Homo sapiens: one gene and its partners. The protein of the gene in region 3 interacts with the protein of the main gene of each other region in a biochemical or structural test. Each region holds a gene or a part of one and is shown on either strand. Other genes may lie near its edges. The genes, in order: TLE2, CDX1 and LEF1.

Region 1 (3,747 bases), on a different chromosome or scaffold from region 3:
GAGACGGGGTTTCTCCATGTTGGCCAGGCTGGTCTTGAACTCCTGACCTCAGGTGATCCACCTGCCTCGGCCTCCCAAAGTGCTGGGATTACAGGAGTGAGCCACCTTGCCCGGCCAATAGACCCAAAGATTCTAAAATTGACTTTAGTGGTCCATGCTTAATCCTGAGATCCTGAGACTGGCCAGTGGTTTCTAAAGGGATGAGAGGGGTCCCAAACTTCTGAGCTTCATGGGCTCCTAGATTCTATCAGAATATTAGAATCAATGAGCAGAACCTTGTATTGGGACTTCCCGGTGGCTGGGAAGGAGAAGGGGGTGGGCTGGGAGTGTGGGGTGCCTGGGGTTGCCCACCCTGGCATGCTTTCCTGCATGTGTGGGGGTTCTGTTGGTTCTGATGTGGGCAGGAGGGGGCTTGTCTGCTGAAGCATGGCGTGGTCCCATGGGTCCACGCAATAGACCCCCCTTTATGGGGTGCGGGACACCCTGGGATCCCAGTTCCACCCTCCTGGTGGGAATAGGAGACACAGACTTCGCCAGACACACAGCACACCTGTAACTCAGGCAGAGGCAAAGTCCGTGGCCATTGTATGCCCGCCCCCTTCCCCACCCACACGCCTTCTCGTCTGCTCAGCCTCTTTGGGGCACCTGGGCCCAGACCCTCTCCAGATGAAATCCTTCCCTTGAGTGTGGCGTGCTGAGATCTCCACCTGGAGGCATCCCCAGCTGGTAGATCAGTCCTGGGAAGCGGAGGAGACCAAGAAAGGGGCCTTGCCTGGGACAGACGTGGGCCAAGCCGGGGCTGGAATCTGGGACTCCAGGCGGAGGCCCCTTTCCTTTGTTTCAGCTGAGCCCAGCACCTCTGAGTGTCTGCGTCTGAGTTGGGTGTCTGAGCGTCTGCCTCCTGCAAATCCCTGGCGGGTGTGCGTCTGGCGGGTGGTGTATCTGTGACTCGTAGGACCTCAGCCCTGGTCTTCCCAGCTCCAGGCCACCCTGGGCCTCGCTCAGCTGAGCACGCAGCCTGGTGGGGCTCTGAATCCCACCTCGGCCCATGCCATGCTAGCCTGAGTTCCCTCTGTGCACCTGCGGGCGTCACCTCCCCAACCCTTCGGCTTTGCCAACACCTGGTCCGCCTGGGAGTCCAGAGCTGGGTTGCAAATCTCTACCCCGCTCCAAGCTTCCTCTCATTGCTTCCTGCCAGGCGGAGATTGTGAAGCGTCTGAGCGGTATCTGCGCTCAGATTATCCCCTTCCTGACCCAGGAGGTGAGTGGGCCTGGGGGTGGGGGGAGGAGGGGAAGGGAGCCGGAAGAAGACGGGAGGGGGTAGGTCTGGGCGAGGACGCCCCAGGCACTGATTCTGCCGCGTAGCCTGCAGCACGGATAGAGACCATTTTCACTGCAGTAGTCCCGCAGCCCTGAGGCCAGGCATCCCGCTGGGGCAGGGGCTGCAGGGATGGAGGGAGGTGTTGGCTGAGGGTGAGGACTGGGGGCTGTTTTCCCCCTTGATGGGAAGCAAGGCATAGAGCTGACCCCCTCAAGCCCTGCAAGTTGGCTGCCTGGGTCTGAATCCTGGCTGTGTGGCCTCAGGCAGGACACTTGTCTCTGTTTTTTCAGTAGCGTAGGTGTGAAGTTGAGATGAGCTCATACACCCAGGGTGCTGGAGATGATGGGTACGCTTACTCAGCACCTGATGAAAGTTAACCCTACCGTCTTGCTAGAAGAAGTCACTGAGGGACAAACACTGGGTGATCCACTCCTAGGAGGTCCCAGGGTCGTCAGGTTCACTGAGACAGAAAGCAGAATGGGGGGTGCCAGGGGTTGGGGAGGGGACGGGGAGTGAGAGTTTTATGGGGACAGAAATTCAGTTTGGGAAGATGGGAAAATTCTGGAGATGGTGCTGGGGATGGCTGCACAACCGTGTGTGTGCTTTATGCTGCTGAGCTGTGCACTTACAAATGGTTAAAATGGACTGTAATTCGGCCAGGTGCGGTGGCTCCTGCCTGTAATCCCAGCATTTTGGGAGGCTGAGGCAGGTGGATCACCAGAGGTCAGGAGTTCGAGACCAGCCTGTCCAACATGGTGAAACCCTGTCTCTGCTAAAACTTAAAAAAAAAAATTAGCCGGGCATGGTGGTGTTTGCCTGTAATCCCAGCTACTCGGGAGGCTGAGGCAGGAGAATAGAATTGCTTGAACTCAGGAGGCGGGGGTTGCAGTGAGCAGAGATTGCGCCGCTGCACTCCAGCCTGGGTGAGAGAGTTAGACTCCATCTCAAAAAAAAAAAAAAAAAAAGTTAGCTCTTCTGAGAGTGCCCCAGGTTCCTTTCATCCTCAGTACCTTTGCACAGTCCCTGTTTCTTTTTTCTTTTTCTTTTCTTTTGTGTGTGTGTGTGTGTGTGATGGATTCTTGCTCTGTTACCCAGGCTGGAGTGCAGTGGCATGATCTTGGCTGACTGCAACCTCCACCTCCTGGGTGCAAGCGATTCTCATGCCTCAGCCTCCTGAGTAGCTGGGATTACAGGCGTGCACCACCACGCCCGGCTAATTTTTGTATTTTTAGTAGAGACGGGTCTCCCTATGTTGCCCGGGCTGGTCTCGAACCCCCGGACTCAAGCAATCCGCCCGTGTCAGGCTCCGAGTGTTGGGTTTACAGGTGTGAGCCACTGTACCCAGCCTGCACTGTCCCTGTTTCTGTGTGGTACGTTCTCTCTTCAGAGAGACGTGAAAGATAGTTCTACTTCAGAGTGGATACACTGGGAGGATCCTTGATGCCTTGAGGACCAAACCCAGAGGGGAGATGCTCAGTTTGTTCAGATTCCACTGAGTCTGAGATTTCTGGAAGCTTGGGGTGGGGAGAGGTCCTGTGTAGACACAGAACATAAAGAGCATCTGCAGCGGAAAGTGGGGACGAGGTGGTCTAGAGAAAGGCAAGAGCCGCAAGAAGTTTAGGTAGGCCGAGCCCAGTGGCTCACGCCTGTAATCCCAGCACTTTGGGAGGCCAAGGCGTGCGGGTCATGAGGTCAGGAGTTTGAGACCCACCTGGCCAGTATGGTGAAACCTCATTTCTACTAAAAATACAAAAATTAGCTGGGCTAGTCCCAGCTACTCGGGAGGCTGAGGCAGGAGAATTGCTTGAACCCGGGGGGTGGAGGTTGCAGTGAGCCGAGTTCGCACCATTGCACTCCAGCCTGGGCAACACAGCGAGATTCTGTCTCAAAAAAAAAAAAAAAAGATTAGGTAAAATGACTGTTGAAAGGAATGAGTAAGGCACACATTTCCAGGAATTAGCAAACTGCAGCTCGAGGGCCAGCTCCACCCCTCCACTTGTTTTTGCAAATAAAGTTTTATTGACATAGCCACGCCCACTCATGTACATATCATTTCCAGCAGCTTTCCCATTACAGTGACAGAGTTTGGTAGTTGCAACAGAGACCTCTGGCCTGCAGAGGGAAAATGTTTTCACTCTCTGGCCCTTTCTAGAAAGTCTTCCAACCCATCCTACACACACCCACACACAGGTGCACCCCCATGGGAGCTCTGTATCCGCATCCTGATACCTCCTTGGTGGAGACAGCCCAGATGTCTGTCTTCAGGAGCGTGTATACACAAGCAGCCTCAGAGTGCATACAGTGGAATATACTACTGTTCCGCTATCCTACACGGCAGTCACCAGCCCCGTGTGATCATTTACACTTAGGTTAACTATTAATAATATTTAAATCTATTATTTTTTTCCTTAAAAAAATTTTTTTTT
Region 2 (3,747 bases), on a different chromosome or scaffold from region 3:
CCAAGGGCTCCGCCCGGTCAGCAACAGCCAGGATTTCCCTTCCCCTCTCCTACAAGCAGCCTTCATGTTGCAGCAAACACTGGGCATTACTCCTTTCCTTTCTGAGCCTCAATGCTTCTACCTGTGCAATGGAAAGGGTTCCTCTGAGCAGGAAGCGGAGGGAGCCCTGTGCTGGCTGAGTCTCTGGCTCTATCACATATCAGAGCCCCAGAAGAGCAAGAGTCTCACCAGGGCCAGCTTCCCAGGCGGGTCACCATTGCAGTCACACAGAGCCCAGTGTGTGGAAGGGCCCCGGGCTCAGGTGAATGCTCTGCTGCCACCATCCTGAAATCCTTAATCATTTTTGAACAAGGGACCTTATATTTTTTATTTTGCTCCCGGCCCTGCAAATTATGTCCTGATCCCGAAACATCTGCCCAGCCCTGAGATGATACTGACCAGCCCCCGGCTAATATGGTGACCCAAGAGAGAGACGGGTTGAACAGATAAGACCCTGATTCTGACCTTCTTCTGGGGACCACACATCCCTGCACAATGAGAGGAACCCAGGAAATGTGGGCCCATCCAATCCCACAGGGTGCTTCTGCACAGCTCCCTGGCACAAAGCCCTTGTGCGGAGGGACCCCATCTGACTTCCTGACCCAGAGCCCTGTCCTTCATGCACCCTTCCCCAAATCCCTCAGCCTTGTCCCCACTCCCAGTTCACTGACACCCCCTCAAGTGTTCCCAGCCCCCACTCCCCCTTAGGTAGCTATGAAATGTTTGCCAGTCCTTCATATGGAGTGGAGGAACACGTGATGCATTTAAAATCCCAAGGGGGCTCCAGCCATAATAAATGGATCAGGGCTTTTGGATCCCGATTCACACAAACAGACTGCTAAAAAGACATTTTTGAATCAATTGGAGTACTTTGAATACGAACTGTGTGTTAGGTAATACCCAGGAATTTGTGTTAATTTTGCTAGATGTGATAATGGCATATTATGTAAGAAAATGTCCATGTGTTTTAGAGATGCGTGCTGAAGTATGTAGGGGTAAAATGACATGATGTCTGGAATTTGTTTTAAAATACTTCAGAAAAGCGGGGAGTAGGTGAAATAAGTGTGACAAAACCTTAATAGTTGTTGAAGCGGGGTGATGGGTACACAGCAGTTCATTATACAATTCTACTTTTGTGTATGCTTGAAACCTCTCAATTAAAAAAAGAGGGTAGAGAGTCATCAAGATAATTTACTAAAAGTTTCCTGTAATGTCCCCAGAAGACCCCCCTAACTCACACACACACACACCCACACACACACTGCCTTTTGAGAACTTTCTCTAGAAGGCCAACCCAGGCAGTCCCCCAACTGTAAGGAAGACTCGTGTATGTATGTGCATATGTGCATTTCCCCAGGGAAAAACATCCACAGCTTCCATGACGAGAGGGGTCGTGACCCCTCCCCGCCAAAAGATTAAGGACCTGCGATCCTACAGACCGGAGCCCTGTTTGAAGTCTGCGTTGCCCCTCACCTCAAGCTGGTCACTGTGTGAAGTTGGCCTAGAATCCCCCGGCCCCTGGGAGCTTGTTCCTCCGCCTGTAAAATGGGGCTGCAGGGCCGTCCACGCGGCCACCGGAAGGACAAGGTGTTCAGGCCGCTAGGCCGCTCCCTGGCAAGCGATTCCCACTCGCAGCGCGGCCTCGACCCTCGCCCAAGACGCGCCCTCCGCGCCCCCACCCCCTCCAGGCCCTGGCCAGTCCACCTCCCGCTTGGGGCGGCAATTTGTCTCCTTTTGAACCCCCCGCCCCCGACGGGTTTCCCCCTTTGATTCGCGGCCCGGAGGCTTCCCCCCGCTTTGAAATGCAAACCCGCCTCGGCTGGGGCCGCGGGCGGCCCGGAGCTATAAAAGGCCTGGGTGGGGCGGGCGCGGCGGCAGGACAGCCGAGTTCAGGTGAGCGGTTGCTCGTCGTCGGGGCGGCCGGCAGCGGCGGCTCCAGGGCCCAGCATGCGCGGGGGACCCCGCGGCCACCATGTATGTGGGCTATGTGCTGGACAAGGATTCGCCCGTGTACCCCGGCCCAGCCAGGCCAGCCAGCCTCGGCCTGGGCCCGCAAGCCTACGGCCCCCCGGCCCCGCCCCCGGCGCCCCCGCAGTACCCCGACTTCTCCAGCTACTCTCACGTGGAGCCGGCCCCCGCGCCCCCGACGGCCTGGGGGGCGCCCTTCCCTGCGCCCAAGGACGACTGGGCCGCCGCCTACGGCCCGGGCCCCGCGGCCCCTGCCGCCAGCCCAGCTTCGCTGGCATTCGGGCCCCCTCCAGACTTTAGCCCGGTGCCGGCGCCCCCTGGGCCCGGCCCGGGCCTCCTGGCGCAGCCCCTCGGGGGCCCGGGCACACCGTCCTCGCCCGGAGCGCAGAGGCCGACGCCCTACGAGTGGATGCGGCGCAGCGTGGCGGCCGGAGGCGGCGGTGGCAGCGGTAAGGACCCTTCCCTCGCCCTGCGCCTCTGGACCTGCAGGTGCTCGGGCGCGGCCCAGGCCGCCCCCTGTCTGACCTCTGCTCCGGCCCTGCTCGGGTTCCCGGGAGTGTGGCCCTCCTGTCCACTCTCGCCCTGGGGGGCTGCTCTTTGGCTCCCTCTCCTCAGTCTCAGGCTATCGGAGCCTTCAGCAGCACAGCCTAACCCTCTCTCTGTACAGATAGGGAAACCGAGACCCCCTGCGAAGTGCGGAAATGCGCCTGCGGCCGCGGAGCAAGACCCGAACTAGAACGCAGGCTCCCAGACTCGTGTCCCACACTCATTTAGCAACACCGACTCCGTGCTCTTCATCTGCTTCTTCCACTCCTAACCCAGCCCTAGGCAAAGGCGGCAGGTTCGCCCCAGAAGGGACGATTAACTAACTGTGTGAACAGGGCAGGTGACTTTCCTGGCCAGGGCTGGGTCTCCCCATCACACAGTCAAGACATTGCTGGGTCATATCCTTCAGGCTGAAAAAGAGCCCTCTTTGGCCAGACTGGGGCAAGGGGTCTGTACCTTACCTTCTCAGGGTCCTCCCTGAACTCTTGACCCCGGGGGAGGGGAAGCGGGAGCAGTGGGAAGGGGGGCTACTGTTTGGCTCCTGAGCCTGTGAACCTCCTGCCCCCAGGCAGGCCTCTCTGATCCGCCCTCTTCAAAGGCAGGGTAGGGGGCAGGACAAAGGGCCCAACTTTAATGAGGGGCGGCTTGACCTCCGTTATGGGTCCCCCCTTTGTCATGCAACTGGCTCTGCCTTGGCTCGGTAGTGACTCCTGTTGGCCGGAAAGTGAACACGACGTTCCATTGTCCGGACTGTGTCCGGCCTGTCCTGACAAAGGCCACCTAGCCTTGGGGGCGGGAAGCTGGCCTGCCCACCCTTTGATGTCCAGCCCCTCCTCCCCTTACCCCAGCTGCGAATAATCCTGGGACTTCTCCCACCTCCTCGCACTCTTCACCCCCATCTCCCCACACACACCCAGCTTGCCTCGGGGCAGATGCTGGGTTGGCCTTGATCAGGAGCTACGGGTTCTGGCCATAATCATATCCCCTTTTTGGAAGTCCCGGGGATACATAACCTCCTATCTGCCTCCAGGGAGATGCAGGGAACCAGACTCTGCCACTTGCTTCTGTGGCCTTGATTAAATAACAGCTAATGTTTTGGAACACTTAACTAACGGACCAGGCATGACCTAAGTAAGATCTTGCATGCATTAACTCCTTTAACTCTTAAAACATCATCGTAGGTACTATTATCAC
Region 3 (3,747 bases):
TAAGTGCTTACTTTGTTCAAAGCATTAATGGGGTTGGGAGAGGGGATGGGATAAAAGAGATGTAATTCATGGATGGTTTGTTTCAAAGTTGAGGGTGGGAGATTTCTTTCAAGGCAAATGACACTTTGATTGGGTGGAGGGTAAGGAAGGGGAACGGTTACGTTTCTGAAACAATCCCGGGGTCTGTAATACTTCCACAAGATTCTGTTTGAATATCTCCCTCTTCTCCCCTCATCCAACTCTTACTACTGGTTGGTAACTGGTGTTTTGTCATTGATGGGTTCCTTTCTTCTGTGACCTCAGGCAAGGTCAGCCTGTATATCCCATCACGGGTGGATTCAGGCAACCCTACCCATCCTCACTGTCAGTCGACACTTCCATGTCCAGGTAGGTGGAGGTGGAAACTGGGGCGCTCGAGGACAAGTTGCTCTTCTCGTGCTTGCATCCTGTGCGCCTCTGCTTGCCTTTTGGTTGGCTAGGAGGGTGCATACCTCAGCCATGTGTCTGTCTGTGCAGTGTGCCTGGCTCCCACACTAGGTGTCAGAGAGAGTCCCGGGTAGGAGCTCTGCGCTGTGCCCCGGCCGGACCAGCCACACCATCGGGCGATGGACTCAGCCTCCTTGGAAAGCGTTGCCTCCAAACAAATTCATGGCCGCCTGACTGTGGGATGGGAACTGTCCGGAAAGCGGACATTACAAGAAGAGTTTGTTTGATTCAAAATATGCCGGGGGTGGGGTAAGGGAGGAGGATAAAACTGGTTTGGTCTCAGCTCTATAATTTGCTTCCTTTGTGGAAAGTTGTATCAGTTTGATGCGGCAGTGTTTGAAAATGCCCAGATAGTCTAGAGCCTTCCTGGATGGAGGCTGTCAGAAGAGACAGAACAGTGCGGACAGGCTGGCAGGCCATACAGGGTGTGCGTCCTAGTGTGTGAATCAGGCCCTGTGTGGACATGGTCATGCCAGCGGAGCTCGGGAGGCCTGCCGCGCCGCACCGAGAAGCTGCTGTGTGTGATGCTTTTGCTTCTGGAGAGGATGGCACTGTGCCCTGTGCTTGATGTACACACACATTTGGGGTGCATCATCTGTGTGTTCGATGTGGCTTTGTCAAGGGAGCTAGCATTATTGTGCCGGAAGTCAAACTGGTGGGTTATTAACTGGTTGTGAATATGTCTTTTTTATATGGGTATAGTATTCAAAGTTTCTGTGGTGAATTACAGCTTTAAAAAAACTTTTTTTTTCAGTGAGTTGTAAATGTAGCTGATTGTGGGAGGAGGTGGAATTAATATCCTTCCCCTTAAAACATATTTTTATACTTTTTAACATTGTAAGAACTATCTGATGATAGAACTCTCACAGGCAAATAACTATCATCATGTATTTTTGCAAGTAATACATTTAGCAAAGCATCATTATTTGGTCAAATATTTGTATTTTTACCATGCTTCCTTCATATTTTAAAATTTGTTTTTGAAAAATATATATCCTAGCAGAGTTCCTTTCAAGAAAAGGAAATTAATTGTGTAGGCTGTGATGAAAGACCTGAGAATGTTGTTCTTGCTGAATTAAATGTTTACTTTAAAAAGTTTGAAAAGCAAAAATTTCTAAAACATATCCAAATTTATCTAGAGAGCTTATTGAAAATACTGTCTTTATTTTATTTTTCTTGCCTGGCAGTTTCCCTCCTTTGTGTTGGCTGGTGGTGGATATTTTAAGATTTTTTTTAATGCTGTTCAAGCGTACTTGGGAAAAAGCCTTTGGCAAGTGTAGTTTTTAACCTTGATGCAGAACTTTATCCTTCCTTTAAATTCTTCTCCTTATTTCTGTTACCAGTTTTCCATAAGATGAGATCTCTGAAACATTAGTGTATTTCTGCACAGAAAATCATTTTGGATGATGTTAATGGAAACCTTATTAAATGGGAGACTGATTCCTATCCGTTTTCTCAGTTGTTCCCTCCTAATATGGATGAGGAAGCCAATAATATGAGAAAATTCCCATTGTGATGGTTTGCTTAGGAATATAGGCAGAGATTTTAAAACATGATGTGTTTTGCTTTCATTTAAAAATCATTTAAAAAGTCAAGTCTTAAATAAAGTGTTATATTTCCAATAATTACTTTTCGTGAAATTCCTATTTCAAAATTGCTTTGCAAGAAAAATGATTCACTTTTTTTTTTCCACCCGAATATAGAAAGAAAAAAATAATTATCGGCCCACTCTAATTTATAGTTAATGCTTCTGTGCGTAAAGATGTGTTTTTACTCTTAGCCAGTAGCAGTTAGTGGATTGCTTTGAAATTCCATCTAGCTTTTGCTGCAACAGCCAGTAGTACATTGTTTTCTTCTCTTTCCTCCTTTCAGGTTTTCCCATCATATGATTCCCGGTCCTCCTGGTCCCCACACAACTGGCATCCCTCATCCAGCTATTGTAACACCTCAGGTCAAACAGGAACATCCCCACACTGACAGTGACCTAATGCACGTGTAAGTATCCACCCGGGCTCTGCTGTGATTGCCTTAGGATACTGAGGATTTCTACACTGTTGCTCCTTTGCAACAGTGATCCTTCACCCCTTTGTGTTGCTGTGAAACTCAATGCACCTCTGCCTTGAAAACTCTGTCCCTGAGGACATTAAGCAGCTTCATTCCTACTGTGCTGATTTTGATTCTGAGGTTGCAAAGGAGCACGGACCCTAAAAGATCATGGGAACCTCACCAAAATGGAAGAATCTTCAGAACATAGGCATTCGAGACTCTTCAGCTGTTTAGCCATTTACCACTGAATTTTCATTTGGTTCAGATTATTGGGGAGAACCTGTTCCTACCTGAGTGAAGTAGATTGGAGGGTTTAATGCACTTTCTTCTGGAAGTGCAGTTACCCTGGCTCCAAGCTTCAACAGCACAGAATTCAAGGGAAAGGAACAAATAAAGCCCAGGATTCCCTGTTGGGCCAGGGTTGTCTCAGACTGTGAGTGCAGGCCTAAATTAATTTACTCTGAAGAGATGAGTAATTAGTTTCTTAATCTAGGTTTTGTGGATGGGAGGGTGGGGGTGAGAGGCAGCATGTGATGGTCCATAAAGCCCTTGCGAATGTATGCAAAGGCAACATGCATTTGTTTGGGGGAAAAGGTCTAAAGATTTATTAGCTTCTCAAAGTGCTCCTTAACCCCCTGCAAAAGTTAAGAACCTCTATTCTGAAAGAGGAATGATCACCTGTGCTGTGTGTTCAGCTTCTTCTGAGGGGACCAGAGAAGTCCTCAGCCTCAGAGCCCATCTGGAGCATCTTCACAATGCCAAGTCCATTTCTACTTGGTGTTCATAGTTCTATAATGACAGGTCCACTTTCTCAAACCAAAGGGTTTTATTCTCAGTCACTGAGTAGATAGGAAGCCCTATTGGATGGGTTGTTTGCCTCTCAGTGTTTTGTCAAATGAGTCAATAACTGCTCTTCCAAGTTGGTGGTGGTCTGGGGTGAGAGGGTTGTCGCCATCCTGAGTGTAGCCATGTGAGCAGGTGCTCTGCTTTTCTCCTCCCCCATCCCTTCCTCATTCCTTCAACCCCTTCCCCTAACCACCACCACCACCACCTTTTAGGAAGCCTCAGCATGAACAGAGAAAGGAGCAGGAGCCAAAAAGACCTCACATTAAGAAGCCTCTGAATGCTTTTATGTTATACATGAAAGAAATGAGAGCGAATGTCGTTGCTGAGTGTACTCTAAAAGAAAGTGCAGCTATCAACCAGATTCTTGGC

Evidence for each region.
Region 1: the proteins of LEF1 (region 3) and TLE2 form a complex in vitro, tested with the Homo sapiens proteins (one study listed by BioGRID).
Region 2: the proteins of LEF1 (region 3) and CDX1 form a complex in vitro, tested with the Homo sapiens proteins (one study listed by BioGRID).

The regions. Positions count from the first base shown.
Region 1 is NC_000019.10:3,022,534-3,026,280, reverse strand, and holds part of TLE2 (transducin-like enhancer protein 2), read left to right. Parts: intron 1-1,198; coding exon 1,199-1,261; intron 1,262-3,747.
Region 2 is NC_000005.10:150,164,866-150,168,612, forward strand, and holds the start of CDX1 (homeobox protein CDX-1), read left to right. Parts: upstream 1-1,912; 5' UTR 1,913-2,011; coding exon 2,012-2,456; intron 2,457-3,747. UniProt on the Homo sapiens protein: Plays a role in transcriptional regulation. Involved in activated KRAS-mediated transcriptional activation of PRKD1 in colorectal cancer (CRC) cells. Binds to the PRKD1 promoter in colorectal cancer (CRC) cells.
Region 3 is NC_000004.12:108,078,226-108,081,972, reverse strand, and holds part of LEF1 (lymphoid enhancer-binding factor 1), read left to right. Parts: intron 1-303; coding exon 304-387; intron 388-2,358; coding exon 2,359-2,481; intron 2,482-3,590; coding exon 3,591-3,747. UniProt on the Homo sapiens protein: Transcription factor that binds DNA in a sequence-specific manner. Participates in the Wnt signaling pathway. Activates transcription of target genes in the presence of CTNNB1 and EP300.